4 linked regions of the Homo sapiens genome follow. The protein of the gene in region 1 interacts with the protein of each later gene in a pairwise test. Each region holds a gene or a part of one and is shown in the gene's direction. Other genes may lie near its edges.

Evidence for each region.
Region 2: the proteins of DYNC1I1 (region 1) and FAM83D interact in binary tests that used the Homo sapiens proteins (3 or more experiments, as listed by UniProt).
Region 3: the proteins of DYNC1I1 (region 1) and DYNLT3 interact in a two-hybrid assay, tested with the Homo sapiens proteins (one study listed by BioGRID).
Region 4: the proteins of DYNC1I1 (region 1) and PNP interact in binary tests that used the Homo sapiens proteins (3 or more experiments, as listed by UniProt).

What each region holds. Positions count from the first base shown.
Region 1 is NC_000007.14:96,027,374-96,035,137, forward strand, and holds part of DYNC1I1 (cytoplasmic dynein 1 intermediate chain 1), read left to right. Parts: intron 1-801; coding exon 802-948; intron 949-5,293; coding exon 5,294-5,407; intron 5,408-5,708; exon of another isoform or gene 5,709-5,786; intron 5,787-7,764. UniProt on the Homo sapiens protein: Acts as one of several non-catalytic accessory components of the cytoplasmic dynein 1 complex that are thought to be involved in linking dynein to cargos and to adapter proteins that regulate dynein function.
Region 2 is NC_000020.11:38,928,780-38,936,543, forward strand, and holds part of FAM83D (protein FAM83D), read left to right. Parts: intron 1-7,764.
Region 3 is NC_000023.11:37,844,569-37,852,629, reverse strand, and holds the start of DYNLT3 (dynein light chain Tctex-type 3), read left to right. Parts: upstream 1-5,058; 5' UTR 5,059-5,119; coding exon 5,120-5,149; intron 5,150-6,271; coding exon 6,272-6,313; intron 6,314-8,061. UniProt on the Homo sapiens protein: Acts as one of several non-catalytic accessory components of the cytoplasmic dynein 1 complex that are thought to be involved in linking dynein to cargos and to adapter proteins that regulate dynein function.
Region 4 is NC_000014.9:20,464,288-20,472,405, forward strand, and holds the start of PNP (purine nucleoside phosphorylase), read left to right. Parts: upstream 1-5,118; 5' UTR 5,119-5,237; coding exon 5,238-5,248; intron 5,249-8,020; coding exon 8,021-8,118. UniProt on the Homo sapiens protein: Catalyzes the phosphorolytic breakdown of the N-glycosidic bond in the beta-(deoxy)ribonucleoside molecules, with the formation of the corresponding free purine bases and pentose-1-phosphate.

The sequences.
Region 1 (7,764 bases):
TTCTCTGACTTTAAGTGCATTATGGTTCTATCTCAGCTAAGTAATTTCCTACAAAATGTACTGCCCAGTAGTCTTTTATGGAGCTTCAGAAACCACATTTGTGACAGACTATGACAGACCATGGCAGAGCTGGACTGAGATCCATTTCTGGTTGTTTGTTAAAATAGGCAAGGAATAACATTAAGAATTTTCTGAAGTGGGCAGAATTAAGATCAGGAAGAATGCCCATGGGAGGTGAGGGAATTTTAGGAGGAGCCAATTGGATCAGTCTGAGGTCAGTATACTTCCTGGAAGTCTACATTAAGGGAAAAACAAAAAGAAGACCTCATCTTAAAGGCCTTGAATCTAGAATTACTCTGCCTTTACCAACACTGCAAATTGTGTAACTTGATGTGGCCATGCTCTCAAAGTAAAGAATTGCTTAGTAAAGGCTTTAGTGGAGAATTAATATTAGTTCTGTTGCAATTCTATGTGACAAATGGGAAATGTCCATAAAGCAAGATTTACAGACCACAAAACAATGATGTACTTAAGATAGGTTTCATACCTATTTGATAAAATGGACAGGACTTCAAATTTCAGATTTCAAGCAGTAACCATTGGTCAGCCTCTCCAAAGAAAGTCCTGTGCCTATGTACAAAATTTCTTAGTAACTATGCACTTTTACAGTCCCAGCTTTAAATTATTTTTTTGTTTTCCAGGATGTGTTGAGTTTATGTGATGAACTGTTTTCAGGAAGAAACAAGTCACCTACAACCATTTCACATTGCATCTCTCTCTCTCTCTCCTTTTCCCTGACAGTCCTCTGTGATGTCGGTCTGCTTCGCCCGTTTCCATCCTAACTTGGTGGTTGGTGGGACTTACTCGGGCCAGATTGTCCTCTGGGACAATCGCAGTCATCGAAGGACTCCAGTGCAGCGGACACCCTTATCAGCTGCTGCACACACGGTAATGCAAACTTTTGCCATATCCCTGTGAGCCGCCAGGCCCTGAAAGAGAAAATAACTCTACTCAAAAAAGTATGGATGTTTTCAGTAATGCCAAGTTAGGAGGATCTACTTTATTATGATTGAATCCTGACCAGCTAAAAGTTGAGTGAAAAGTAGATGAAGGAAGCACTGGCTTTAGGGATGTCTCTTAATAACCTACATGTGCTAGCATGTAGGGAGGATCTCCTTGGCTCTCCCAAAGGCCACCAGTGAAGAGAAACCTTGGAAGAGGCATCTGTGGAATTGTTTTCCCAAAGAAACCCTATGCATTTACATTATAAGGTGGAAACACGTATTTTCAAATAGATCCTGAAGAGTAAGGATTTCACATCAAGGGATGATATATGGGACTTTTGCCAACTGGCCTTTTCCATGTGTGATTTGAGAGAGTACTTTGACTTTAAATTCTGGAATGTGTGGTGTAAGTCTCAACATAAAGTCTACAGTGACAATATAATCCCTGGGGTTAAAAGTCAACATCTCAAAACCATTACCCATAATTTAGTAGAAGAGGTTCAGTATAGTGTTCATAAGACAACTACTCTGTCATTTCCTTTAAAAGAATGACAGGTGTGTACAGCAATTGTTCAGAGGAATGAGAAGACAGGCGTGTCTCCATCAATCCTTGCTACCTTGACACTCAGGGTAACTGATGTTCTTTCTCTGAAATGCCCAAATTATGCCCAAGGATACAGCTTTACTCTTGTTTTCAATTTCCTTAATGTGCTTGCTGCATTTGTTTCATATGCTGGACTCAAAAGCACTCTGGCATGAAAAAGGACTGCCAGCTGTTTAGCTAAGTCCATGAGGAGGAAAAATCTCCTACTCTTGTAAGATTATCAATGGGAAATGACAAATACCAAGTCAGCCCCAATTCTGATTGACTGGGGCCAAAGACACTTGCAGGTGAAACTAGTTCTTGGGAATCTTGGGAAATTGCTCTTGCCTGCCCCATTTCCCCAAACTAATAACAGAAAATTGTGGCCCAGGAGAAGGTGGGCTTGATGCAGGTGTTTGGTGAAGTAGTGTGAAACCATGCCTTGGCCCTGTTTGGATGGCTGGTGTATTTCTGAACATACCTTCTGAAATTTCCAAAATTGTAAATCCAAATGTTAGAACATTTAGCAGTAAGCTTTTGGGGAAAATTCAAAACCAGGAGCTCTTCCAAAAAATTAACATTTCTTTTGTGAGTAACTTAGAGTGTGATCATCACAACTAAAATACTATTATTATCAAACTTACTGATGTTATTTCTGTTAGAAAATAAAATAGGCCAGGCATGGTGGCTCACACCTCTAATGCCAGCATTTTGGGAGGCCAAGACAGGTGGATCACTTGAGGGGTTCGAGACCAGGCTGGCCAACATGGAGAAACGCTGTCTCTACTAAAAATACAAAAAGTAGCTGGGTGTGGTGGTGCACGCCTGTAATCCTAGCTTCTTGGGAGGCTAAGGCATAAGAATCGCTTGAAACCAGGAGGCAGAGGTAGGAGTGTGCCAAGATTTTACCACTGCACTGCAGCCTGGGCAACAGAGGGAGACTTCCTCTAAAAAAAAAAAAAGAAAGAAAAAGAAAGGAAAAAGAAACAAAACTTGTCCACTTTTCGCTTTTGCTGTTTTGTTGTTGTTGTTGTTGTTGTTTTGGTTTTTTTCAGGGGGATTTTGTTTGTTTGTTTTCTCTAATCTATAGCTAAAAGTGAACAGTTAATTTTGTGACTGTCTTTCAACTTTCACTATTGGCTGACTGATTGGTACCAGGATCAAAAAGGAAAAAGAGGCCCACCACAGATTACTCACTAATTTCCTTTCACACCCACCACACATATGCATTTGAGACAACAGGAAATCATAAGTAAAACAAAATCCCTCAGGCACACAGTAAGTTTATTTCCAAGATAAATAAAAACAATCTGGCATCTATACTGGAAAAATGGGTATACTGTAGCTTTCTTCTTCCTTAATGGTAGAGTTGTGTGTGTGTGTGTGTGTGTGTGTGTGTGTGTGTGTGTGTGTGTGTAGGCATGCTCCAGTGTCTGCTTCTGTTTTGGTTTCATTACACCTCTTTTTTCTCTTAAACTGAGTTTTATTACTCATGGAAGCACAGGCCAGTAGTGCTGATTAAAGCCTGGGAGGGGCTGCCACACACACTTTCTCCGGGCACATGGCTCTACACATTCTTCTAGACTTGCTTTCTTTCTCTGCTGGACCTTTCTGAGTCTTAATCCATTAGTGTTTAATGATTTGTGTTGATGCTCAGTGGTTATCAAAGAAGCCCCACTGGACTCTTGTTGAAAAACAAGATGGATTTCAGGTTCATAACAGTATTTGGACCCTGCCTTCCCATTCTTCAGTTTTACTAAGTCTATACCATTTTCAGGTGAAAATTTGTTACATCCAATCTTCCATTTGATTTCCACACAGAGGTTAGCATGCTGTGTGGCTCCGGGCTTGATAATACACTGCCTGGGGCTCTACATACACCAGAGACTTGGGAAAGAGCATTGCCTACAATCCCACAACCAGTCAGCCTTCCTGATACTTAGAGAACTGATTGGGATAACATTTAGCTTCAGATCTCTGCTGTACTTACTATGTGCAGATCCACTAAGGCTGACTCATTTGGAAGTTTCAGTAGGGACATGGTGTGAAAGACATAGGGACTTAGCTGACTGTCCATCAGCACGGGGGAAAGAGGTGATATAATTGTCAAAAAAGCAGATGTAATCTTAGCATGCATTAAATGCAGGCATATTTTTTATCACATGAGAAGTGATAATTCAATGCTACCCAGGTTTCTATATTCTGCTGGTCAGAATATAGGTAGACAGTTCTGTTTTATTCTCAGAACCTCACTGGAAGAGGAATCAGACAAAATACAGCATTTTCAAAAGAGATTCACCAGGATAGGAAAGGTTTTGAAAACCAGGTACCCAAGGAACAGATGAAGGAATTAGTGACAGTCTGGGTAAGAAAAGATTTGGCAGGGAGAGGAGTAACAGGGAACAACTATCTATAAATATTCAAAAAGCTGTACTGTTTTGACTTGATTAGTTTGGTTTGGTCCCACAGGGCACTGCACTGGAAGTATCTCCTTGAACTTTCTTTATCCCCATTAGTGGAAGAAAAAACTCCCCCAGGATACTACGAAAACTGGCTGCCCTTTAAGGAAGGTGTTTAAGCAGAGTTTGGACCACCTCTTGGTTGAGGCAGATGAGTAGCTACATTAGATGATTATTACCACTCCTTCTGACCAGCAGTTTATATGATAATAATAGTTTGGGAACCATCCTTTATACAATAGCAACTTTCCAATATTAAATATTGTTTCATTGTAGTTGTGGCTAGGTATTATGGACAGTAACTCACCAAGGGTAAGACTGATACTGTCAGCTATTTGCACAAAGAAGCACCAAGTAAGTGTGGTTTGGCCACTGGTGGCTGAACTGCCTGAAATCTAACCCAAATTGCTGTAGGTTCTGCTCATAGTAACCTTCCATTTTGTGTTTAATACACAGCTGCAAATGATTTTAGCCTACCGTTTAGAATTCTGCAGAGTGGGATAACCCACTAGAGTATGACAGAGGGTTACAACATCTTGTGTATGGTTCCTGGGATGTATAAATGACCTTTCTCAATGCCCTGGCCAAATCTAAGCCTCTATACTACTGCAAACGGTATTTTGAAAAATAAATATATTATTATCCTAGATTTTGCAGTAACATAGAAGAACCTAATTTTATCTCACCAGGTACATTGTGCCAATAATCTCACCACTAGTATCTCTCCCCCAGATTAAAATGGTTATGAATATTAACCACTTTTTATAAAGAATGTTAACAAATGTTTGGCATTGTGACTATAATGCATTAAACTCCAGATTTAGTAACATGTATTCCTTCCAAAAGTCAGTAGTTCTACCCTTTTGAAGACTGTCTTTTTCCATCACTCTTGTTGAGCTTAGAAGCCAAACTATGCGGTGGAGACTTATTCAAGTAGTTCAAATTCACCTCCCTGCATTGCCTCTGCCCCATCAAACCTCATTTGTTCTAGCGTCCTTCTGTTCCACTGCATTGCATTCTGACTGAGCAAGGTGAAGCTTTATAAGTATTTCCACTATTATGTGTTGCTGCCAGAGCTTTTAGAAAGAAATCAGGTTCAAATCAAAAGCGGCAAATGACCTGACGCTTGTATTATAGTAGGATTATGTTACTCTTTAATCCTTGTTTTAGAGTAATGTGTTTGACACTCAAATGTAAGCATTTCCTCTTGGATCTGTCTCTGATCCTCTTTGTTTATGTTTTTGCAGCATCCCGTGTACTGTGTAAATGTTGTTGGGACCCAGAATGCTCATAACCTCATCACTGTCTCCACTGATGGCAAAATGTGTTCCTGGAGCCTGGACATGCTCTCAACTCCACAGGTGGGTTTGTTTTTCCCTACACATAACACCATCCTGGTTAAAAGAGATACCTACTTAATGGAACATAGTTCCTAAAAGCCAAACCCTCACATCCTAGAGGAGCTAAAACAAATGGATGCACTTGAAAGAGTGGGGCCTGCTTTCAGCAATCTTCTCTTGAAGCCAAAACCCATTTCCTTTACCACAAATCATGTAATTATTGTAATACATTAATCCTTAGGTCAGTTTCAAGTGAAAATGAAATAATCCATTCTAAATCATAGTAATTATGGAAGTTGCCTATGGTATGAATTGCACTTACCCTACAGCATTGTTGAACAGATGCAGACGAGGTTGGAGCTCAGCAGAGCAATCCCTTATGGGTACTTGCATTGGAGGGAAGGTAACCCAGCAAAACAGAAATCCAAGCCCTTGCTTGTATCCGTAGCCTAGACAACAGCCTGTGTGTATGAAGAAACCATCTGTTTTCCCCTCTGGAATGTTTTTTAGTATGGCTCCTGTCATTCCTTGCTCAGTAAATGAGAAGTCAAAAATGAAAAAGTTCCAAAGTCTGCAAACCAATACTGATTGCAACAGTGGGGACCAAACAAAGGAATAGAAGTGGGAGAGGCTGTCAAAGGGAGACAACTAAATGCAACTTGCAAGATATGCATATGTAGACAAACACACAAGACATGCGCATACACACATGAACACATACACACACGCTTTTTCCATATTTCTTTGTGTGAAAAAACAGTATTCACTATCCTCCAACCAAAAACAACAGAGAAGTCATTGTTATAGACTTTGACAAAAATGTAAGGAAACATGGAGAAAACTGCAAAACAATATCTAGGAGATAATTCTCAATGTTAACATTCCCATATTCTTTCCCAGGATAAAAACCCTAGAATGTCTCTCACACAATTTTAGAAGAAGTTAAAGTTTCAAAATGTACATAAGGAGACAGGGCACGGTGGCTCACACTTGTAATCCCAGCACTTTGGGAGGCCGAGGTGAGAGAATCATTTAAGCCTAGGAGTTCAAGACCAGCCTAGGCAACAGAGCAAGACCCTTTTTCTACTAAAACTTAAAAAGTTAGCTGGGTGTGCTAGCACATGTCTGTAGTCCATGTTCCTTGGGAGGCTCAGGCAGGAGGATTGCTTAAGCCCAGGAGTTCGAGGTTGCAGTGAACTATTATCACACCACTGCACTCCAGTCTGGGTGACGGAGTGAGACTTTGTCTCTTGAAAAAAATAATTATTATTATTATTATACACACACACATGCACACACACAAAAGGAAATATGGAAACTGTGAAGAACCAACCTCCTTTAAGCCTCCACAAAATACGGATGTAAAGAATACTACGTTTTTTTAAAATAATTTTAGGGAGAAAAAGGAGAGAGTGCTAATAAGCTGCTTACAATTGAAGTTCCACTATTTTCGCTGATCTTTAACATTATAGAGGGCTGGAGGGATTGGTATTTTATGGCTTTGTCTTAAAATTCTCAGCAATGTTTTGTTTTCTTTTAAAAGCCTGAAGATTATAAACAGACATAAGAGCAAGCCCACTATTTAGGAATTTTTAATTGCCCATTTTGCTCATTACACATATTTATTTAGGTTAAAACCAGTAATATGGTGGCTCTAAGTCCGTTTGTATTAGTTTTAGCATGCTCACAGACTCCTGTGTCTATACAAAGATGGAGGATTTCGTGACATGGCTTCCATGGATGGCAGGGAGGAATAGGGGCATCCAACAGTTGGCCTGGTCTTTCTCTCTCCCAAATGGGTAAAGGGACTTTTCCTTCCTTGCTGCTAATTTTAGTGATGAAGCAGATCATTGGATGATCCAGTTATCTGTATGACATAGTCACAGCATCCTCTCCTTTATCCCAGTTGCTGATGTGCACCCTATGTGTGGATATCACAAACTTTGAACACATCACAGGATCAGAATCAGTCTGTGTTGCTTAGACTGTTAGCTTGCACTTTCAATTTAATGGACTCCTTGGCTGAAATAGTTTATTTGCACAAGAAAGACTAAACTCTCAAGCAACTATAATGATATGATACCTCAGAATGATTTTTTAAAAATTATTTCAGATGCACAAAATAGGCTATTTGATGTAAATAGCCAGAAATACTCAGGGATATTAGTTATAATTGATTATTCTTTTCTGTCATTAAACTTAACTCAGCAGTATATCTTTTAAGATTAGGAATCTTTAATTCTCAATTTTAAAAAATCATATTATAAAATAAAGACTCCCATTTGCTATTTTAAAGACGTATTTAAATATTGTTCTTTTCAGGCTTATAGCCTATTCACCCAATGGCTGCCCTGCATGAAATCTAGTCCCTGTTGAAA
Region 2 (7,764 bases), on another chromosome or scaffold:
GATAGAACCTGCTGCCCTAGTCTAGCTACCCACAGTTCCCTCCGAGATGCTGTATTTGGAACCTGGGCAGTTTTAACTGAGAAAGGTGGTACATTACCTTTAAATCCAATGAGTATTGGCTGGGCACAGTGGCTCAAGCCTGTAATCCCAGCACTTTGGGAGGCTGAGGCAGGCAGATCACGAGGTCAGGAGTTCGAGACCAGCCTGGCCAACATCGTGAAACCCCGTCTCTACTAAAAATACAAAAATTAGCTGGACGTGGTGGTGCGTGCCTGTAATCCCAGCTACTTGGGAGGCTGAGGCAGGAGAATTGCTTGAACCTGGGAGGTGGAGGTTGTAGTGAGCTGAGATCACACCACTGGACTCCAGCTCTGGGCGACAGAGCAAGACTCCCTCTCGGAAAAAAAAAAAAAAAAAAATCCAATGAGTATTTTCAGTGTGTCCGATAGATGCCAAATTATTTGCTTACTCATTGCCTGCTGTGTATCAGACACTACCATGGCTGGGGCCACAGGGGAAGGCATCATCCTTGCCAACACTTGAGAGTGGACAGTGTGCTGATGGGAAACAGTGAGGAGTTTGCTGCAGGTACTGCGGAAAGGGCTAAAGAAAGAAAGTCTCCGGAGTGGCAGTGACCTCAGAGCTGGGTGGGGCTTGCCAGACCTAGGGTATGGGGGCTGGCCCACAAGTGTTTAAGGACCTGGAATGTTTGGGGGCAGCCAAATTCCCCACAGCGGGTTAGTGGTAGGAGAGGAAGCTGGGGTAAGGGATGCTGAAATGAGTTGGGTTTGAGACAGTGCTGAATTTGAGGTCCCAAAGACAATCTCTTTTGTTTAAAAAAAAAAAAAAAAGCCAGGCCATGGTATCATGTGCCTGTAGTCCCAGCTACTCAGGAGGCTGAGGCAGGAGGATCATTTGAGCCCAGGAGTTTGAGGCTGTAGTACACTATGACTACGCTGTGAATGGCTACTGCACTCCAGCCTGGGCAACACGGGGAGACCCTGTCTCTTTAAAAAAAAAAAAAAAAAAAGTAATGCTTTCTGTTTGCCAGGCACTGTTCTAGGTGATCCCAAGGAAGGTGCGATTATCATCTTCATTTTACAGCTGATAGAACTGAGGCATAGAGAAGTTAAGTGGCCCCGAAGTCATGCAGCTAGAGAATGAAGGAGCCTGTACTCAAATTGAGGCACAGAATGTCTGAACCACTGTTAACCACCACACTCCCTGTGGAGGGTTCAGGAGCCTGTGCTCAGGTGGGGAGAGGTGACAGCAGATCTGGTGGCTAGCTAAGAGCTACTACTATTTATGGGCATGCATTGTGGACAAGGGAGTGGCTGTGTCACCTTGACCACATCCTTTGAAATCTAGTACCTGTGACAGCGAGGACCATGAAGGTGTAGGTCTCAGGCTGCTTTCAGGATGAAATGAGAAGCTGTTCTGCATCCGTGTTCTGATAGCAAAGGTACCTAATGGTGATATGATTGAGCACTTTGAATGGGTCAGTTTCTGTGCTAAACCCTTGACCTGAATTACCTCATTTAACCCTCCCAACACTGGGAGGAGGCTACAATTAAGAAAAGACCAGGCACAGAGAAGTTAAGTAACTTGCCTGAGATCACACAGTTAGCATGGGACAGAGCTGGGCTCAAGCCCAAGTCTGTCTAGTTCCAGCTCTGAAGCTCAAGTGTTTTTTTTTTGTTGTTTGTTATTATTTTTTTTAAGACAGAGTCTTGCTCTGTCACCCACGCTGGAGTGCAGTGGCATGATCTTAGCTCACTGCAACCTCCACCTCCTGGATTCAAGTGACTCTCCTGACTCAGCCTCCCGAGTAGCTGGGATTACAGGAGCACACCACCATGCCCAGCTAATTTTTTCTTTTTTTTTTTGGAGACAGAGTTGCTCTTTTGGCCCAGGCTGGAGTGCAGTGGCACAGTCTCAGCTCTCAGTAACCTCTGCCTCCCAGGTTCAAGCGATTCTCCTACCTCAGCCTCCCAAGTAGCTGGGATTACAGGCACCCTCCACTAATTTTTGTATTTTTAGTAGAGATGGGGTTTCGCCATGTTGGCCAGGCTGGTCTTGATCTCCTGACCTCGCGATCTGCCTGCCTCAGCCTCCCAAAATGCTGGGATTACAGGCGTGAGCCACTGCGCCCGGCCAATTTTTGTGTTTTTAGTAGAGATGGGTTTCGCCATGTTGCCCAGGCTGGTGTTGAACTCCTGGGCTCAAGTGATTCACCTGCCTTGGCCTCCCAAAGTGCTGGGATTACAGGCGTGAGCCGCTGTGCCCGGCCACTGAAGCCCACACTCCTAATCCCTGCTGCATACAGCCTCCCTGCCATGAGGAAGGATTGGAGCTTTGGTAGTTTTCAACAGGCTGAAGGTTTGTAACAGTTGAAGATTGGGACTTTTTAATTTCCATGTTGCGTATTCTATAAACAGGAAAATGACAATGACTAGACCTGTCCTTTTCAGGAAGAAAACGAGGTGGTCAGTTTTTAGAGTAGGAGGCATTAAGGCTGGCAGAGAACCTCCTCAACCCATCAAGTGGGGAAGGTGGTTCATGATGCCAGGAGAACATAGGTCTCTGAGTTTAGGTTTTGTAAACTAGAGTGTGTTTTCCTCTCCCTGGGAAAGATAGAGCCAGATAGATGTTTCTGGTACCTGGAGCAGAGGGATCTGTGAGAATCTTTTGGTGGGTGAATGAAGGAACTTTGAATGCCACATGAAGGGTCCCACTTAACCCCAGAGGTTGGGGCCAGGCTGCAGTAGAGCACGGTCGAACCTCAGTGTTCGCTCCATGCAGCTTTATCTGCCTTCACTGAGGTGGTCTGAGGACCACCCTGCATCTTCAGGAATGTCTCTGGAAGGAGCCAGGATACGAGGCTCCTTGACCAGAGTATAGGCACAGGAAGCCAGGGTTACTTGGTAAATGGTAGGGCCTAATCCTGGCTTTGCAGCCTGAAGCGCTGGTTCTGGGATAGGTTTTATCCAGCAGCTCTCTGACCACACAGAATCACTCAGTGTGTCTGATACATAAAAGATGCTCAGTAAATACTGTAGGGGCCTATTATGTGCACCTTTGCTCATTCAGCTACATGCTTTGAGGAGAAATAAAGGGCAGGGGGAAGGGAGCGGTAGATAGGAAGAAAAGTAGTTCAGGTGATTCTGTCTGCCTTTCCACTCAGCAAGTATTTGTCCCTGGGTGGCTGTGCCTGGGGTTTGTGAATCTGCCAGCCCCTTCCTTGACTCTTGTTTCTATATACCTTTCAAAGTGTGGGCATTCTGCCACACTGAATGAGGTACAGTGTTTAAAAACAAATGGTTTGGCCATGCGCGGTGGCTCATGCCTGTAATCCCAGTGTTTTGGGAGGTCAAGGCTGGAGGATTCCTTGAGGCCAGGAGTTTGAGACCAGCCTGGGCAACATAGCGAGATCCCATCTCTACAAAAAGTTAAAAAATTAGCCGGGTGTGGTGGCATGTGCCTGTAGTTCCAGCTACTCAGCAGGCTGAGGCAGGAGGATTACTTGAGCCCAGGAGTTGGAGGCTGTAGTAAGCTATGATCATGCCAGTGCACTCCAGCTTGGGTGACAGGGCAAGACCCTGTTTCTAAAAAATAAATAAAAACACAATTACGTATAGCATGGCTTGAATACAAGCTGGCTGCTTACCAGGTGCTCAGGCGAGCTTCACCAAAATTGGAGGAAATACTGTTTTGAACCTTTTGAGAACCCATATGTTTGTTTCCTAAGCAAGTTTTTGGATAATCTTGAATTATACAGGATATTTTCCCTACATACTTGCTGTAGATCCACCCCTCCACCACTGTATCTGTTGATGACGCATTCAGCTTTTTGCCTCTGTTGCTGTGTGAACTGGGATTTGGCTGGGCTGTGGCCGCCTGCCTGGAAGGGCTACATAGCCTCATTTTGGCAATGTGCTTATGAATTGGCTGTCCGGCTATTCCTGGTTTGTTGAATGAGAGTTCAGAGGCAAAGCTGGTACCACCACGAGGTTCCAATTCCTCAGAGTCACGTTTCTTACCAGTGCCTATTCTCTTTTGTTCCAAAGAGGCCACTTTTGCTATGACCTCACCCTCGGGCATCCTCTTGATAACCTGAGCGTTAGTAGTGGGGATCATTGCGTTCCCAGAGAGCCCTGCCAGGAGGAGTAGCAGCTTAGGAATCTGTTGGGGGCCCCTGGCATTTACTTGGATGTATCTGAATGAAGGCTTTCCTGTTCTTGCACAACTTTCCTCTGCATTACAGTAGAGCCTGTGTGGTGTGATCAGTTTCTGTTCCAAATGCTCATGTCAGCCCCAAGCAGGGCTTCTCACCCTCAGCACTGTTGACCTTTTGGGTTGGATAATTCTTTGTCCTGAGGGGCTGTCTTGTACATTGTAGGACGTTGAGTAGCATCCATGGCCCCCATTCACTCGATGCCAATAGCATCCCTCACACCAGGTAGTCATGATATTCAGTGTCTCCAGAGTGGGAAATAGTGAGTTACTGATGAATGGGCACAGAGTTTCTGTTTGGGGCTATGAAAAAGTTTTAGAAACAGATGGTAGTGATGGTTGTGAATGTAATTATTGCCACTGAATTGTACACTTAAAAATTATTAAGATGGCAAACTTATCTATTTTACCACAATAAAAAAATGTCTCCAGACATTGCTAAATGCCCTGTGGGGGCAAAATCGCCCTCCAGTTGTGAACCACTGGCCTAGAAGTTCTCACTAGTGCATCATTATGGGACATTACCCACTGGACTGAAGTGTTGCTACTATTTATCCCTTCCTTTTGATTTCATGTGTCAGGTTAAGGATTTTAGAATTTAGCCATTTCTCTTTAAAAATATTGTGGTAAAAAATACGTAGCAAAATTTACCATTTTAACCATTTGTAAGTGTACAGTTCAGTGGCATTAAATACATTCACACTGTTGTGCAGCTGTCACTAGCCGAATCTCCAGAGCTGTTTCAGCTTCCCAAAGTGAACCTCTGTACCCATTAAACACTAGCTCTTCATACCCTCCTTTCCTGGCCCCGGCAACCACCATTCTACTTTCTGTCTGCCATTTCTTTCTTTCTTTTTTTTTTTTTGAGAGTCTCGCTCTGTCGCCAGGCTGGAGTGCAGTGGCACCATCTCAGCTCACTGCAACTTCTGCCTCCCGGGTTCAAGCGATTCCCCTGCCTCAGCCTCCCAAGTAGCTGGGACTACAGGTGCCCGCTACCACGCCCGGCTAATTTTTTTGTATTTTAGTAGAAACAGGGTTTCACCATGTCGGCCAGCATGGTCTCAAGCTCCTGACGTCGTGATCTGCCCTCCTCGGCCTCCCAAAGTGCTGAGATTACAGGCGTGAGCTACCATGCCTGGCCTCTGTCTGCCATTTCTTTATTCTTTTCCCTTAGCGTCTAGCAGACAGTAATGAAGCTGCAGAATTCTTCTCTGACTTCTTTATGGATAGAAGGTATGTTACTTCAGGAAAAAAGCAAGCAAAACCCAAAAATGTAGTGGATATATTGGCTTAAAAAAATCTTGAACCCGGTCTCTACTAAAAATACAAAATTAGCTGGTTGTGGTGGTACATGCCTGTAATCCTGGCTACTTGGGAGGCCGAGGCAGGAGAATAGCTTGAACCTGGGAGGTGGAGGTTGTGATGAGCCAAGATCGTGCCATTGCACTCCGGCCTGGGCAACAAGAGTGAAACTCCGTCTCAAAAAAAAAAAAAAAAAAAAATTCTTGATGCAAATGATATAACCTCTGGAAGGGAATTTGGCAATATCTAGCAAAATTTCAGTTATATTTACCCATTGATCTACCACTTCCACTTCTCTGTATCTTGATATATTGGCAAAAATATGAATAGTTGTAGACAATAGGCCATGCGTTGCAACACTAATTATAATAGCAAAACACAGGAAAGAGTTCAGGTGTTCGTCAGTAGAGGATGAGTTCATCATTGTGAATGAACCGATTCGTCTCTGCAGTGGAACATCCTGTAGCTCTAAGAAGGAATGAGGACTAGCTCTGATATGCGGTATCTAGAATGGTACTGACCAGTGTAGTAGCCATATGAGGCTATTAAAATTTATATGGATTAAAATTAAATAAAGATTCAGTTCTGTCATCTTGGAAGGTTCTATTGGGCCACGCTAGTCTAGAACAATGTGTAGTATTCCATGCTACCTTTTACCTATAGGGGGATATAAGCACATATACATAGTTATATACATAATACACATGTTTATATAAAACAAATATGTTTATATACACCTGTGTATACTTGTTTATATTGAAAAAATGGAAGAATATACAAAAAACTATTGGAAATATTATCTCAATGGGGAGGAGGGACAAGGATGGAAACTAAGTATCTTTGAAAGTACCTTGTTTTGTAAATTGGATTTTGGAACTAGGCAAATGTTTTACATACTTATAAAATAAAAACAATTCAAAATGATAAGCCCTCCTCCCCCTACCCCCTAACTTCTTGGTGCTTTTCCCTCCCCTTTGAAAAGCCCACCTGCTTGTGTACTTCATGCTGGAATAGTACAGAGTACTGAATAGTGGTCAGTCCCTCCAGAGATCAGTGAAAACTTTGCTCCTGCCACCCTCTGGTGGCCCTGCCAGCACTTTCATCTAATACTTAAATTGTTTTATTTGGTTGCTTGTTTGTTTGTTTGAGACAAGTTCTCATTCTGTTGCCCAGGCTAGAGTGCAGTGGTGCAATCATGACTCACTGCAGCCTCGACCTCCCAGGCTCAAGTAATCCTCCTGCCTCAGACTCCCGAGTAACTGGGACTTAAAGGCACATGCCACCACGCCCAGATAATTAAAAAAATTTTTTCTGGAGACAGGATGTCAACTGTGTTGCCCAGAGTGGTCTCAAACTCCTGGCCTCAAGTGATCCTCCCACCTTAGCCTCCTAAAGTATTGGGATTACAGATGTGAGCCACCGTGCCGGGCCTAAATTGTTAATTTGATAATAGCCTCTGAAACAGAGGGAGAACAGTGCACACAAGCAAGTTTAGGTTTCGCTGTGGGAATTTACATTCTTTTTTGTTTTTAAACCCCAAAGATGTCAAGATAGTTACTTAAAGGTTTTTGACAAAATCCCAAGGAGATTATTTCTGTTCTATTAAAACATGTAATACATGGAGAGAAAATATATCTTTTGCTTTTTTAGCAAGAGGGTCCTGAGAGAGTTAGGAGAGGAAGTGAAGGGTCAATGGAGGCCATGTGGTCAGCTGGGAGAATGCAGCAGCCAGGATGTTATTGACCACAGCACAGGCTGACATTGAGTGGGTGCAGATCTTTGGTGGAATTCCAAGCATGTTGCACACCTGACCTCACTTTATGACTCTGGGAGGGAAGGGAGGGAAACTGAGGTGCAGTGAGAAGGGGTGATCGGTACGAACTTCCTCCTTCACACAGAGGAAGAAGAGCTAGAATGAGAACTGGAATGACTGGCCCTGAGGGGCCTGTTGGGGCTGCACATGTGCCTGGTCAGAGCCTAGACCTGCCCATTGAGTGTGTATGAATCACTGACTTCGCAGAGCTGGAAGGGTTCCTTGTTTCAAGGACACCGAGACTCAGATGGAATGGCTTGTCCAGGGATAGTGACGGAATCGGGACTAAGAATATGAGTAGCTGCCATTTAAGGGCTTTCCATATGCCAGGAACTGCCAGCAAACACTATGAGATAGGTACTGTCAATCATCCGTGGTGAGCTTGAGCCCATGCACTTCATGGGCTACGCCACTGA
Region 3 (8,061 bases), on another chromosome or scaffold:
GTTTCACTCCCAGGGTTTAATCCATGGGGTTTCAACCCAAAGCAAGACTGTTTACCAGAATCATCTTCCTTGGCAGGACATGCAGTCTGATTATTTTACCCCTTGGCCCATAAGCAAAAGGCTTAACATCTTCTCACCTCGAGGTAAAAAGTTATCCCAAATGCCATGCTCATCTTTCTGGGTTTCATTATTCTATGTCTTAGATCCATAATTCTTCCCTATCTTGTTAAAAAATCCAATTCCCTTGAGCAAATGTCTATTATATTTTGTCCAACCTTTGTAATTATCAGTGAAAGAGATGGTCCTAATTACATAGTCTACCATTACAGAAGTCTTTAAATATAATTTTAGTGGTTTGTAAAGTGGGTCCAAATGTTTTTTATCAGCTGCTTCTATGGCAAACCTTTCTAGACAATATAATTTATTCATATTTAGGGAAAATTAATTATTAAAAACTCATTAACAGGAATTGCTTATGGCTGTTCAATGCGTAGAGCCAGATATAAAATATTATATGGGTGAAACCAAGATTGAGGGTCTCACTAAAGCATTGAAAGAGGTTTTATTTGGAAGCTTTAAAAAATTCAATTTTAACACCCTTTCTATTTTATTTTTTCATATAATTATATAAAGTAATGAAAATATTTTTTCACCAAGCCCCATACAGATGCCCACCAAGCCCCTCCAGTTTACCTCAATGTACCATGTAAGTATTATCCTCTATGTGGGCCATAGCATGGAAAAGTTTGGAAAGGACTGACCTACCAACATTTACTTTATATCAATTTTTTTTTTCTTGCTGGCAGAACTCACTTTTCACCATACAGAATGAAAAAACAAACATTTGTTGTCCCATATGTTTTGCCCGGTGGGGAGTCACGTGGCCCAATCTTGGCCACTGGAACCTGAGGAGAAAACTCCTGAGGACTTGAAATAAAGATTTTCTTTCCTAAGAAAATCCGATCAACCCCAGAAAATGCTCATCTTAGTCACTGAACGTGATATCTTTGTTCCTAGCGATACCAGAACTAATGCAGCCGTGTATGACCATGAGGCTAAATGTTGCTGACATGCTGAGGATATTGGCATGGAAAGATGAAAAGCACAGAAGCCCCAAAATTTGTTGAGCAACTAAACGAACCTGGAATATCTCTGCCTCTGTATGTCTGTGTATTAGTCTATTCTCTCATTGCTTTACAGCAATGAGAAATACCTGAGACTGGATAATTTATGAAGTAAAGAGGCTTAGTTGGCTCGTGGTTCTGCAAGCTGCACAGGAAGCAGAGTGACTCCTGCTTCTGGGGAGGCCTCAGGAAACTTACAATCATGGTGGAAGGTGAAGGGGAAGCAGGCACATATTACATGGCTAGAACAGGAAGAAGAGAGAGAGGAGGGAGGTGCTACACACTTTTAAGCAGCCAGATCTCATAATAACTCACTCACTTACTCTCACAAGAACAGCACTGAGGGGATGGTGCTACCCATCATGAGAAATCTGCCTCCATGATCCAATCACCTCCCACCAGGCTCCACCTCCAACACTGGGGATTACAATTCAACATGAGATTTGCTGGGGACAGATCCAAACCATATCAGTCTGGTTATATAAAAAAATAAATGCCATTATTTCAGCTCATCCTATTTGGGTCTTCTGTTACTTGCAACCACAGGATGCTAGTTAATAAACCCACTTGTAGTTTTAAAGCATGAGCCCCAAATTATTTGACACTTCTCCCATTGAGAAGTGGATTATGTGTCCCCTCCCCTTGAATCTGAGTGAATGTTTCAATGATTAGAGTATGGTAGAAGGGCTGCTGTGTAACTCGTGACACTAGGTGATAAAAGGTGACATATCTTCTGCCATGCTCGATGGAACCCTCATGCTTGGAGCCTTGAGTTGCCATGTAAAAGATCTGGCTACCCTAAGGTTGCCATGATGGTAAGAAGCCAATCCACTCGGTGGGGCCATGTGTTGTTGCTCCAGTTGGAAGTGCTAATATTTTATTCATCCAAGCCCAGATATCAGACATGTGAATGAACAAGTCTTCAGATGATTCTGGTCCCCACCATTGAATTTCCTCCAGTCTTTGAGTCTCCCCACCTGAGGCCCCAGACATCACAGAGCAGAGGCAAATTATTTCTGCTGTGCCTTGTTCAAATTTCTGACTAAACGAATCCATGAGCATAATATAGTAAATAAGCTGCTAAATTCTGGGGTAATTTATTACACAGGAATGGTAACTGGAACAACACTTCTTCATCTCACTTTATATGCATCATGAATGATCACATAACACAAACTTGAGATGTGCTGGTGTAGCTCTTGCAGTATTAAGATTAGGTAACTTCAGGGTTTAACCCACCCAGGCATAGAAACAGTTCTTTAGGGAAATAAAACTGATGTTCACAAAGACACTACGAATCCTTCTCATGAATAGACTGCCGGAGTTGCTCATAGGATGAAAACTTTGGTAAAAAAAATTCTTGAAAGAGGATGTGCTTCCTCTATGAATTACAGTCACTTTTCTGCAGTAACCCTGCATGATCCACAACTTAGGAGAACCAATAACAAACACCATACTATCAAGTAAACAGCCTTGTTTGGTTCTAAGTTCATAAAATAAGAGCCTGAGGTTCAGAAGCCCAGGAGTCCAGTTAACACCTATGTGCCCTGTAGAAGTTACTTTATCTTCTCAGCTTCAGTTTTACTTGTAAAATAAGGGAGATGGACTAGAAGACTAATGGTTTCCAACTTTGATTCTGGGGAGCAAAATAGAAAAGTGTTGTGGTTGGCTGAATAATGCTCCCCCTCAAATTTGTCCACATCTGAATTCTGAGAATCTGTGAATATGATACAGAGTGCAAAAGACACATGGCATATGTGATTAAGTTAAGGGTCTTGAGAGGGAAACAGGAGGGCAAGAGTCATACATCTCTCGTTTATAGAGATGCCTCACACTTCCTTTGAAGCAGAAGCGAGAGAGGAGAAAAGATACTACTGGCTTTGAATTTGGAGGAAGGGGTCATGAGCCAAGGAATGCAGGCAATCTCTAGAAGCTGGAAAAGGCAAAGAAACAGAGTCTGTCTTGGAGCCTCCAGAAGGCATGCAGCTCTATGGGCCCATTTTAGACTTCTGACCTCCAGAACTGAGGCAGGAGAATAGGGTCAGGAGGCAGGGAACTTAAAACTGTTTCACGCTTACTTCATAGAACTAAATTGAAAGGAAAACCCTGGCCAGGCACAGTGGCTCACGCCTGTAATCCCAGCACTTTGGGAGGCTGAGGCAGGCAGATCACTTGAGGTCGATGAAGTCGGGAGTTCGAAACCAACCTGACCAACATGGAGAAACCCCGTCTCTACTAAAAATACAAAATTAGCTGGGCGTGGTGGTGCATGCCTGTAATCTCAGCTACTCAGAAGGCTGAGGCAGGAGAATCGCTTGAACCCGAGAGGCGGAGGTTGCCGTGGGTGAGCCGAGATCGCGCCATTGCACTCCGGCCTGGGCAGCAAGAGTGAAACTCCGTCTCAAAAAAAAAAAAAAAAGGAAAACCCTAACCTTCCATACCTTCCATGCCTAAGTAACAAAAGGACCAGAGGCTATTCCCTTTGCAAATCCCCACCTTTTCTGCAGGGCAGATGGGAAATTTAAAGTACCTCTGATTGGTTGCTTTTTGCAACCAAAGAGCAAAAAGCAACCAATCAGACATTTGCACAGGAGTGGAACTTTGTAACTTCACTTCAGCCTCTGATTGGTTGCTGTCTGCAACCAATCAAACTGATTATGGGCCAAATCTTTGTTTGAATAGAAGTGCAACTTTGTAACTTCACTTTAGCCTCTGATGGTTGCTTTCTTGCAACCAATCAGACGTTTGCATAGGAGTGTGGCCTTTGTAACTTCAGCCTCTGATTGTGGGCCACTACTTCATTTACATGGGGTGCACACCAAGTGGCCAATGGGAAATCTCTAGGGGGTATTTGGACCAGAGAAGATTCTGGATCCCGGCCCTTGAGCGGCTTCTCTGCCCGCTCCCACCCTGTAGAGTGTACTTTCGTTTTCAATAAATCTCTGCTTTTGTTGCTTCATTCTTTCCTTGCTTTGTTTGTGCGTTTTGTCCAATTCTTTGTTCAAAGAGCCAAGAACCTGGACACCCTACACTGGTAACAGAACTGTAAGAGAACAGGACTGTGTTTCTTTAAGGCACTACATTTACGGTAATTTGTTACAGTAGCAATAGGAAAGTAATACAGTGGTTAAGAGCTTGGGCTCTGCTATCAGACTACTTGAGCTCAAGTCCCTTTTCTACACCCTACTGGCTGTATGACCTTGGGCAAATTAAATTCTCTATACCTCAGTTTCATCTTGATAAAAGCAGTGATGGAAGAACTAACTCCTCTGACTTATTGTGAGGTTTTGAGGAAGTGTCTAGGATCATCTGGAAATTAGTAATTTATTTTAAAATTACTAATTTAAAATTACTACATTTATTTTAAAATTACTAATTTAAAATTACTACATTTATTTTAAAATGTAGTCATTGTTCTCTTGTTGAGAAGCATCTACTTTAGGAGCCGTGTATACAGCTTCTCATCAGATCCTTACAACCAGTAGTGAAATAGGTATGATGGTAAGTTTCCATATGAGAAAACTGAAGCTGTGGGAGGTGAATTTTTCCAAGTAACATAGCTAGTAAGTGGACAAATCAAAGTGGCTGGTTTACCACGAAATTAACTACATTTATGTGCCACATGATGGTGAATGAACAAATACGTGCAAGTAATCACAGCAGTGGGCACTCAACCACTAGTGCGGAGTCTAGACTAACTGCCACTAGGTCACCCCATCTGATCCACACTGGCGCCATTCCCAGTTCTTTACATTCATCCCTTGTTTCCAGAAAGGGCAGAGGAAGCGAGGAAAAAGTGCGTGGCCTGAAGTGACGCCTGGCGTTGCCCGAAGCCCGCCCAGCGCTGCCAGGTGACGCCACTGCGACACAAAGGCGGGGATTGCGTAGGGAAAGGCCCTAGGCCATAAACGGGGGTGGGGCCTCCCCGGAGGCCAGTGCGCGGCCGCGGTGCTCTACCGGCGTGTCGCTCCGCCCCAGGGAGAGCCGGCGCTACCATGGAGGAGTACCATCGCCACTGCGACGAGGTACCGCCCCTTGGCTACCTGGGAGCGCCCCCCACTCCCGCCTTCCTCTGCGCGGGGCTCTTGCCGGGTGGTCTCCCAGCGAGGGCGGTCCCAAGAGTTGGGGTGCGGCGTCCTCCGAGCCCGGGTCCTCTCCCCTGGGCCCGGGATCCGCCCCGCCCGACCCGTTCTCCCCACCCCAAAGTCCTGAGATTCGGGGTGGGAGGGGTGGCCAGGAGCGCGCGGATCAGACGGTGGGGTCGGGGCAGGGTTGGGAGGACGAGGCCTGACTTGGGTGCGAGGAGTGGGCATGGGGTGACGGGCGCCGCCCTCCTACCGGGCGGGCCTCGAAAACGGGTCTTCCCGCTGCTGCCTCCGTCCCTTGGCTTCCTCAGCGCGGGTGCTGCAGCCCCCATGGCTCGGAGTCTCGGGGTCCTGGTGGCACTGCCATTCCCGCTCCCGGTAATGCTTGCCAGGATTAGGCAAGGAGGTGCTTTATGGATTACGAGCCCTTGCTTACTGACTCAGGCTTTCCCAACCCTCACCAGAAACCCATGATGTCAGTTGTTATCTCCCTGTTATTGATGGGGACTCCAAAGAAAAGACTAAGTTGTCAGACCACTTTATAGTACTAAAGTGATATTAATCTTGAGTTATCAAGTATTTTCATAATCTTTAATTTGGGAAAGGAATTTTTGCCTAGAAATTTTTGCCTAGCATAAGTTAAAAACAAAATTGAAAATAGTCTACTAAGCATTCTCTTCATATGGACCACTTCATTCTCTCACTTAGCTGAAACCATTTCTATATTCTTATGACACATAACATCCTCATAGTCACCTCTTGCTTATTTCCTACGTTTTACAATACAATGATTCTTAATCTAGGATGTTCATTAGAATCACCAGTATAAAGCACTTTTTTAAAAAAAAATGTAGACTTGCAGGCTCTGCCCCAGACCTCACGGGAGGTAGGTAGGGAAAGCATTCAGTATTTTTAAGTGTTTAGGGGCAAGATTGGCCCCTTCTGTAGACCTGATGCCCTTTAACACTTTAACACCTGTCTAGGCCAGCCTAGGATATTCTGTGTAGCGTCATACTTGTAAGCCTGTGTTGAAAGCAGCTTTACCTTTTGTTTTCCCTTTAGGTTGGCTTCAATGCTGAGGAAGCCCACAATATTGTCAAAGAGGTGAGTCATACATTTTGTTTCTCTTGAAGCTTGCTGCACTGGTGGAGATTTTTAAAAGCTATATTTTGAGTTTCAGCACAAACTTAGAAACCTTACTGTTAAAAGAAGAATATTTTGTTTTGTTTTATTTTATTTTATTGTTTTTTGAGATGGAGTCTCGCTCTGTCACCCATGCTGGAGAACAGTGGTGTGATCTCAGCTCACTGCAACCTCCACCTCCTGGGTTCAAGCAATTCTCCTGTCTCAGCCTCCCGAGTAGCTGGGTCTACAGGCGCCCGCCACCACACCCATCCAATTTTTGTATTTTTAGTAGAGACGGGGTTTCACCTTATTGGTCAGGCTGGTTTCGAATTCCTGACCTCCGGTGATCCACCCGCCTTGGCCTCCCAAAGTGCTGGGATTGCAGGCGTGAACCACCACACCCGGCCAAGAACAAGATTTTAAATATTTATCCACTAACTCTTTATAGGGGTCCTTCTATATTTTGTTGTGTGCTATCAGCATCTTGAGGCTTATTCTGAAAGAGATGCTTAAGGATTTTCTTAGTCTAGAAAACTGGTTTAAAATTGATGCCCTGTCTTTTGGATAAAATAACTTTTATTCCAGAAAGCAAACATTATTTTAAATGTTAATGCTATAAAGTATATGTACGCATATATATGTACACACGTCAACTTTTATAATGTAAAGTATATGTATAATATATATGTATATTGTATAAAATAGATAACAAAAGCCCTAGAAATATCTGCCTTTGGGCATGTACACTTTTTTGCCCAATATAATTGGAAAAAATGATCATTTAACATATTTTAAGCATTGATATGATAGTGAATCAAAATTTTAAGAAAAATATTTGAAACTCCTTTTAGGCAAATAGAAAAGAAATTACCTTTGGGAATTAATTCTGGCAGGGGACCGTTCATTATTTTAGAGGTATCACATACAGACCACAGTGTGGGAAAGGTATTTTTTGACACCCAGGTCTGGCCTTACACAGCTAGAATTAACTCAAGGTCTGAGAGGAATAGACAGGCACCTGAAAATCCTGCCATATTTGAATACTTCAGAATTATGCATTCTATCTATGTAGCCTGAGAGTATTTAATTATTAAAAGTAGAAAGCAAAGGTTTTTAATACCTTTACAATGTAAAAGCACAAATGAGGGAAACTGGGAGGTGGAAGAGGGAGTGGAGGTAATGAGAAGGGAGTGATCTTAGTTTTCAAAGTGGCAAGTCAGGAAAGACTGTCCTTGGTTGATGGAACATAAAAGAAAGAATGCTGGGCTATTTGGGATTCCATTTAAATAGTGCCTTCTTCCTTAAGTTCTGAACCAAATGAAAAGAAAAAAGAGCCATTAGAAAGAGAACAAAATACCACCTTTATTATTGATAAAAACCAGTTTGATGATTGTACCTTGTTTTGCTAACTCCCATTCAGTTCAGCCCTGGGAAGAGTCATCCAAGAGAAAGTTTGAGTCAGCAGAGAGAAACACTTGTTCAGGCTGGTGCCTTTCATTGGTTTGGGTGGAGAGGGAAGGAGAAACTAAAGCCCAAGTTCAACACATTTGGGAGACTCCCAAATGAGATGTTAGAACAATGGTTATCACCCACCAACCAGGTAACTCATTCCACCTCCATGGGGAGGAATAACTGACAGGACAAGAGGCCAGGAATGTTAAAGAACAATCCTCTGCGTTGAAGAAAACATCCAGAGTGGAAAAGAAACATGTTTCTAACAGTGTAAA
Region 4 (8,118 bases), on another chromosome or scaffold:
ATGAAGTAACTTAAGCCCCATCTTGGGATAAATTTGCTGGGTACTGAACAATATTGTTAGCTGCAGTTGCAAGCAGGGAGGATATTCAGCTGGGGCACTACAGGGTGGCTGGCATTGGTTGTTTATGGCGCCATTGGTTCTGATTGGTTGGTACCTGTATTTTACAGATAAGCCATTTTAATATTATCTCTGGTAAATATTGAGTGTCTCAGGTATTGCCTGATTTTTACCTATGGGGTGGGATCTTCTCACTTAGATTGAGAACAGTTAGGCTATTGAGGTGTATTAATTTGCTAGGACATAAAAAACACTATAGATAGCATAAACGACAAACATTTATTTTCTCACAGCTCTGGAGTCTGGAAGCCCAAGATCAAGATATTGGCAGGTTTGCTTTCTCCTGAGGCTTCTCTCCTTAGCTTACAGATGGCCACCTTCTCACTGTGGCATAAATGGCCTTTTCTCTACACACATTTTTGCTTTCTCTTCCTCTTTCTCTTCTTTTTCCGTGCTTTTAGAGACAGGGTCTCACTCTGTCACCCAGGCAGGAGTGCAGTGGTGCAGTCATAGTCTGTGGCGGCCTTGAACTCCTGGGCACAAGCAGTCCTGCCACCTCAGTCTCCCAAGTAGCTGGGATGACAGGTGCATGCCACCATGCCTAGCTAATATTTTAATTTTTTGTAGAGACAGGGTCTCACTATGTTGCCCAGGCTGGTCATTGGTCTCTAACTCCTGGGCTCAAGTGATCCTCTTGCTTTGGTGTCCAAATGCTGGGATTACAGGTGAGCACCACCCTGCCTGGCCTCTCTTCTTCTTATGAGAACAACAGTCTTATTGGATTGTGGCCCCACCATTATGACCTCATTTAAACTTAATTACCTTTTTAAAGGACTTATCTCCAAATATAGTCACAATGAGGATTAGAGCGTCAATATAAGAATTTGGGGGAACACACTTCATTGTGTTATATAATAGAATAGATTTCAAAGCATTTTTTTCTTTAGATTTCCAACAAAGTGATAACTAGTACAGTGTGTACATGGCCAGAGGATGGGGTGGAAAACATCTGCTTGGCTTCTATGACCCAAAGTGTCCCAATCTGATTTCTTTTTTTTCACATATTCCACATGCCCTATTTCTTTTTTCCTCTTTCCTGAAGTGGTAATTTACCACCTGTGTGAAAACAACACAATCCCTTACTGCATTTCAAAGGCACAGAAAGTTTCTGGTAATGTGCAGAGTGAGTTAACTAAGACGAGGGGTAGTTTGCCGGGGGTTGGGTGGGATTGGGTAGGGTGTGACCTGGTTTTAAAGAATTAATTTACGTTAATTACATTGGGACTTTGCTCCCTTGTGCTCCTTGCTCTTCCTGGGCCTCAGTTCTTTGCTCTTTCCTTTAGGGAATTCCTGGCTTCCCTTTCTAGGAGCCAAGGTCTTTGGAATAGAGGGTGGTAGGCCAGTCCTTTATCTCTGCTCTGTTCTTCCTGCCACTGAGTGAGGCACAGATGGAAGTCTCACTCTTAGAAAAGAGAAATAAAAGTGATCCCTATAACAGAAAGAGAAGGGCTGGATGTGCTGGTTCATGCCCATAATCCCAGTACTTTGGGAGGCTGAGGTGGGAGGATCACTTGAGCCCAGGAGTTTGAGACCAGCCTGGGCAACATGAAGATACCCCATCTCTAAAAAAATAAAAATAAAAAATAGGCGAATGCGGTGGTGCGTGCCTGTAGTCCTAGCTACTTGGGAGGCAGAGGAAAGAGGATCGCTTGAGCCTAGGAGATTGAGGCTGCAGTGAGCTGAGATTGAGCCACTACACTCCAGCCTGGGTGGCAGAGCGAGACCCTATCTAAAAACAAACAAACAAACAACAACAAAAAAAAAACAGGGAAAAACCCTAAAATGTTTTAATTTCAGTAATTGGAGAAAATGGAAGACCAAAGATTATGGTGATAAGGGGAGTAGATATTTTATTTTATTTTTTGAGATAGGGTCTCACTCTGTCACTCAGACTGGAGTGCAGTGGCTCCATCACAGCTCACTGCAGCCTTGACTTCCTGGGCTCAGGTGATTCTCCTGCCTCAGCCTCCCTAGTAGCTGGGACCACAGATGCCACCACACCTGGCTAATTTTTGTATTTTTTGTAGAGATGAGACTTCACCATGTTGCTCAGGCTGGTCTCAAACTCCTGGGCTCAAGTAATCCTCCTGTCTTGGCTTCCCAAAGTGCTGGGATTACAGGTCTGAGGCACTGTGCCTGGCCAGGGATAGATATTTTTAAAACCGCATATTTAGCTTGTGATCTAGAGAGAATAAGAGATCTCAGTTGAGAGGGCAGGAATAAAATACGTTCCACAAGGCAATACTGAGTGACTTAGAACCTATTCCTGCCACTTTTTTTTAGTTTCCTTGATCTTGCGGGTGGAGGGTAAGTGTGTTACTAAGTATGTTCCTGGACAAGGAGTCCCTCTGAAGATAGAAGTGATGAGAAGATAGAAGAAAAGGTAATAAGGCATTAATGAACTCTAATCACACTAAGATTGATGATCGTCTGGTTCCTGTCTATAGGAATGCTACAGGAACTCTTTTACCCTAAAAGTAAATAATAAAGCACAGTTCCAGTTTCTTTTATGTGGATACAAGGTGGCAGTGACTAGAAAAGATAAGAACAGTGCTGTGCTCTAGCATAAAAACGTAATTATGCTATGCAATATGGTAGCCACTAACCACATGTGACTATCGAGAAGTTACAATGTAATTAGTATGATTAGGTAACTGAATTATTTTTATTATATTTCATCTTAATTAATTTTATTACTTTTAAATAGCCACACATGGCTAGTGCCTTCTGTTTTGAACAGTGTGGGATTCATTGGTATTGATAGGCTGGATATACCTCTAGTTTTTATTTTGATTCAATTTATGGTTAGGTGAGTCTAGAAAGAACAAAAGAGAAAGAGACAATGGAGATTAATCATAATAGCCAGCATTTAATGTGTGCTTATTATATATCCAGGCATTTACCTAAACATGTAAAAGGTATTCTGTATAATCCTTGCAAAAATACTAAGATTATTGCTATTTTACAGATGAAAAAATTGAAGCATAATAAGAATTTTACTTGCCTAGAATCACACGAGTAAATAAGGGGTGAAGATGGCATTCATACACAGGTAGTTTTATTAGAGCCCATTCATTTACACTACATAGATTCAGGAATGAGGTGGCATGGAGTGACTGGGGCCATGGTTCCCAAACTGTGCCAAAGTACAAGCTCACAAGGGTATTGTGGAATATTTTTAATTTTCAGAGGAAACACAGCAATATTTTATATTTCTTAAACACTGTGTGACCTATTAACTTGAGGTGATTCACAGTTGGAACATTAGATTGTGCTACATTCCTTTTGATGACAATATATCTGGCCAGGTGTGGTAGCTCATGCCTATACTCTCAGCACTTTGAGAGGCCGAGGTGGGCAGATCAGTTGAAGTCAGGAGTTCAAGGCCAGCTTGGCCAATATGGCAAAACCCCGTCTCTACTAAAAATACAAAAATTAGCCAGGCATGGTGGCAGGCACCTGTAATCCCAGCTACTCGGGAGGCTGAGGCAAAAGAATGGCTCAAACCCAGGCAGCAGAGATTGCAGTGAGGCAAGATCGTGCTACTGTACTCCAGCCTGGGTTACAGAGTGAAACCCTGTCTCAAAAATATATATATATATAAAGACAACATATCTTTACAAAAGATGGTTTTAGAAGGTCCCTCTGATAAAAATTAAGTATTAAGTAAAAAAAAAAAGTACTGTGTAAAAATCAGCATGGAACAGAAAATGAGGGTGGCAGCATTGGATTCCTGCATGTGAGAAGTTGAGTAGTGCCAAACAGATGTACATATCCCGTAAGTAACTGTTTGTGGTTATTTAAGAACGAAATTTTTTTTTCAATTTGTGTGCATTGTTATTTTCAAAGTGCTAGTAAGTTCTCAGGAACCAGCTACTCACTCTGTTGCCCAGGCTGGAGTGCAATGGTGTGATCTCAGGTCACTGCAACCTCCACCTCCCGGGTTCAAGCCATTCTCCCTGCCTCAGCCTCCCAAGTAGCTGGGATTACAGGCGCCTGCCACCACGCCCAGCTAATTTTTTGTATTTTTAGTACAGATGGGGTTTTGCCTTGTTGGCCAGGCTGGTCTCCGACACCTGACCTCAGGTGATCCACCCACCTCGGCCTCCCAAAGTGCTGGGATTACCGGCGTGAGCCACCGCGCCTGGCCTTTATATATAAATTTTTTTTTAATTTTTTAAATTAAAAATTAAATGTAAATTTAATGTAAAAATGTAAATTAAATGTAAAAATTAAATTGTAAATGTGGGCAGAAGTAATAGTTGTATTCTACCAAAGACACGCTATTTATGTTATATTCTGGTACCCGTGTATTCCGATAACAGAATTTTCTTCGTGGGAGGAGTCCTCTAGTTACCTGAATTGCTTGGATCAATATTGCGCAGATCAAGGGATTATCTGTGTCCCTACCCACCAAATCCATCCTTATCCTTTCTGTCGGCATCTAGGACCCCGGAATTCTTGCCTGAGAACTTTTTCTTCTCCCGGTCTGGGCCTGGATGTGCTCTCCTAAACCCTGTATCCTCCAAGTTAGCACTGTTGCCGGGGGCGACCCAGCTTCCCTTGTCCAGGGAGCAACTCAGACACAGTCTCGCTTCATTTTTATTCTGGGGTTGTACAATCTAAGGTATGAAATTTTTCCTTTTTGAATCTCTCACGGTTTGCTATTGACACAGCTGGAATGAGGTTGCAAGGAGAGGGCTGGGGGCTCTCCTCCCTACTTCTAGCCCTATTTCCGCATAGGCCTTCTTGCTGGGAACTCCTGCCCTGCGGACTGGAATGGGTACCGAGATGAAATGCTGGGTGCGCTCCGGCTCCCCCCGCCCGCCCCGGGGCAGAAGGTTTAGGGCTGGGAAGAACTCTGATTAGGTTTACAGCCCAGGTTCAGCCGATTGAATTAGGGTGTGTCACCATGGAGACAGGGCCGGCCCGCGTGCTCGCTTGCCATTGGCTGGGGACTCCAGGGCAAGGGATATAAGCCAGAGCCTAGACCAGTGAGCCAACTGTGCGAACCAGACCCGGCAGCCTTGCTCAGTTCAGCATAGCGGAGCGGATCCGATCGGATCGGAGCGGATCGGAGCACACCGGAGCAGGCTCATCGAGAAGGCGTCTGCGAGACCATGGAGAACGGGTGAGGAGGGCACCAGGCCCGCAGGACCCTTGGGGAGGGGCAGGTGCTGTGACCCGGGAACCTGGCACACTGGGCCCAGAGGGAGCTGGCGGAGGGAGCGAGCGCCCAGGGGATGCAGAGAGGCCTGGCACTGAGCCTAGTGTCGGGAGCAAGGCGGCAGAGTCATGCGGCAGCCAGCGCGGGCAGGGACGCACGCGGGAATCGAGCTGGGGTGGCGCCACCGGAGCAGGAAGGGGACAGGTCGGTGCGGTCTAAGCTACTCCGTAAAAGCAGCCGTTGTGTGTCTCCGTGTGTGTGTTAGGGGAACAAGTGGAGAGTGAGTATATGTATATATCCCTCACTCCATACCAGGAGGAGGTCTCCTCACCCCCTGCGCTCTTCATAAATTCCCATGCTAGGGTCTGGGTAAAGCTGCGAGGTACTTTTGGTGCTCAAATTCGGAGTTCCTCCTTTAGAGGCAAGATTACTCACCTCCTTTGCCAGTTGCACTCCTCCCTTCCTTCCAGACTGGCAGTATGATTAACTCGGTGGGAAGTGACTGCTAAGTGGAGACGGAAATCAGTCACCGAACTGAGCAACAGTCCTGTGCTCACTTCCCCCACCCCACGCCTTTGAAAACTCTTCTCTCGGCTTGGGTCCTGGATATCCCAGTCCAAGTGACCTGCATTAGGCATCACAGTTGCTTTTGGATGCCCAGGGAGCCAGGGTGTTCTTGAGGGGACTGATAGCCAATGAGGAAGTGCTGTGAGATGTGGCTAGACATGCCATGTGGCGGCAGCTTCACACATTCATTTCCTTTGCACCTTTTGGGGATGCCATTTGATTAACATTTTACCAGCTTAATTGCTTCTCTCCATTGTCCTGTGGCTCCGTTGACCAGCCCCCAACCTACCTGATCCAACTGCTTCCCTGAGGGTAGCCTGGTGTATTGTGCAATCATGTCTGGTTTCCCGGGCTCTGCTTTCCAAGTAAAAAATTTCCTGTGAAAGCTTGGTTAGTTGTGTTCAGCTCTGTCACACCTCATTGCCACCTCTGAAAGCAACGTTTGGTCTTCCCAGATGGATGTGAGAGAACTGGACTTGGAACTGGGAGAAAAGTAACACGGGTTGATTCTTGCTAGTGTAGGGGTTCTGGGTAAGTGCCCTGAGGTTTCTGAAGAGCAAAGATCCTCGGTGGAGAGAAAGGAAACTGGGAGGAGGCAGGGAGGGGGAAGGACAGGAAGAAGACCACAGGCAGGTGGAAAGCAGGAGAAAGATTCAAATACTTTGTGTAACAGAGCCATAGGTCTTTGGAAGTTGTTAGCAAGTATTCAATTCATTTTCAGATTGAGCCTATAAGATAGATGGGGCCAATTTACATCCCTTGTTTATACCTGAGAAAATAATTTAAAGCACAAATTACATGCCTAAAAAGACAATATTGGGACTAGAATCTAGGTCGAATTCTGCTTCCCTCCAGACCAGCAATTCCTAAACCTGGTTTTATTTTATTTTATTTTTATTTATTTATTTTGGAGTCGGAGTCTCGCTCTGTCTCCCAGGCTGGAGTTCAGTGGAGCGATCTTGGCTCACTGCAACCTCTGCCTCCCGGGTTCACACCATTCTACTGCCTCAGCCTCCCGTGTAGCTAGGACTACAGGGGCCCGCCACCACGCCCGGCTAATTTTTTTTTTTTTTTTTTTTTTTTTGTATTTTTAGTAGAGACGGGGTTTCAACATGTTAGCCAGGATGGTCTCGATCTCCTGACCTCGTGATCCGCCCACCTCGGCCTCCCAAAGTGCTGGGGTTACAGGCATGAGCCACCGCGCCCAGCCCCTAAACCTGGTTTTAAAATCAAAATTACATGGGCTTCAGAATCTGTTTTTTGTGGGGGTTTTGTGTGTGTGTGTGTGTGTGTTTTTTATAGGGTCTCACTCTGTCACCAGGCTGGAGTGCCAGAATCTGTTTTTCTAACAAGCTTCTGCTGAGAATTTGTGTAGTCAGTCCTGGTTTAACCTTTGACAACCAGTACTGTGGACTGGGTCTGCTTTTTTGTACAGCAGTTTATCTAGTTTTTTGTCTGGAATTAACCCCCTTGTGATCCAGGGAGCTAAGAATGGCACGTAGACCTCTACCAGGGGTGGTCCCATTGTGTTTTATTGGTTAAAACAAAAAAGAAATGTAGCCCTTAAGTCTTTGGCTGAGGAAGGAACTGGAGGAATGAGGGTTCAAAAGGAAATTTGAGTTTATCTCTGCCTTCATAGTAGTTGGTCTTAATTACATTTTGAATGTCTTTGGGGAACAGGTAAGGTAATAAGGGGGATTTTACTAGGTGGGCACCACCCTCAGGAAGGGCTTAATCCCATTTTGAGTACTCTTCTTGGGCTCCCTCCTGGCCAAGCCCTTTTACCCTCCCTAATTTGATTATTTCCTTGCACTTCCCCGTACACTCTGGCCCCTTCCTCTCTAAACCTTTGTCATAAGGATAAGTATGCAGCTTGCCAGTGTTCAGTGGATCCAACACTGGAGTTGGGCCTGTTAGTAGAAACAGGCTTTATTAACTTTTGCCAGGCTCTAGAATGGAGGTAGTTTCATATCAGACTTGTAGTGGGCTTGATTCAGAAAGAAGGGTGGCTGAGTAGATGGAAGAGCATAGTATGGCCTTTCCCTCTGTGCCAGCTTCTCCGTCCCTGCTGCCTCAGTATACCTGCCAGCCTTTTTGCACCGAAGGTCATTTGTCTGTGATGCCCTTGGAATGGGAGCAGAATTCACCTTGATATTTTTTCTCCCCCAGATACACCTATGAAGATTATAAGAACACTGCAGAATGGCTTCTGTCTCACACTAAGCACCGACCTCAAGTTGCAATAATCTGTGGTTCTGGATTAGGAG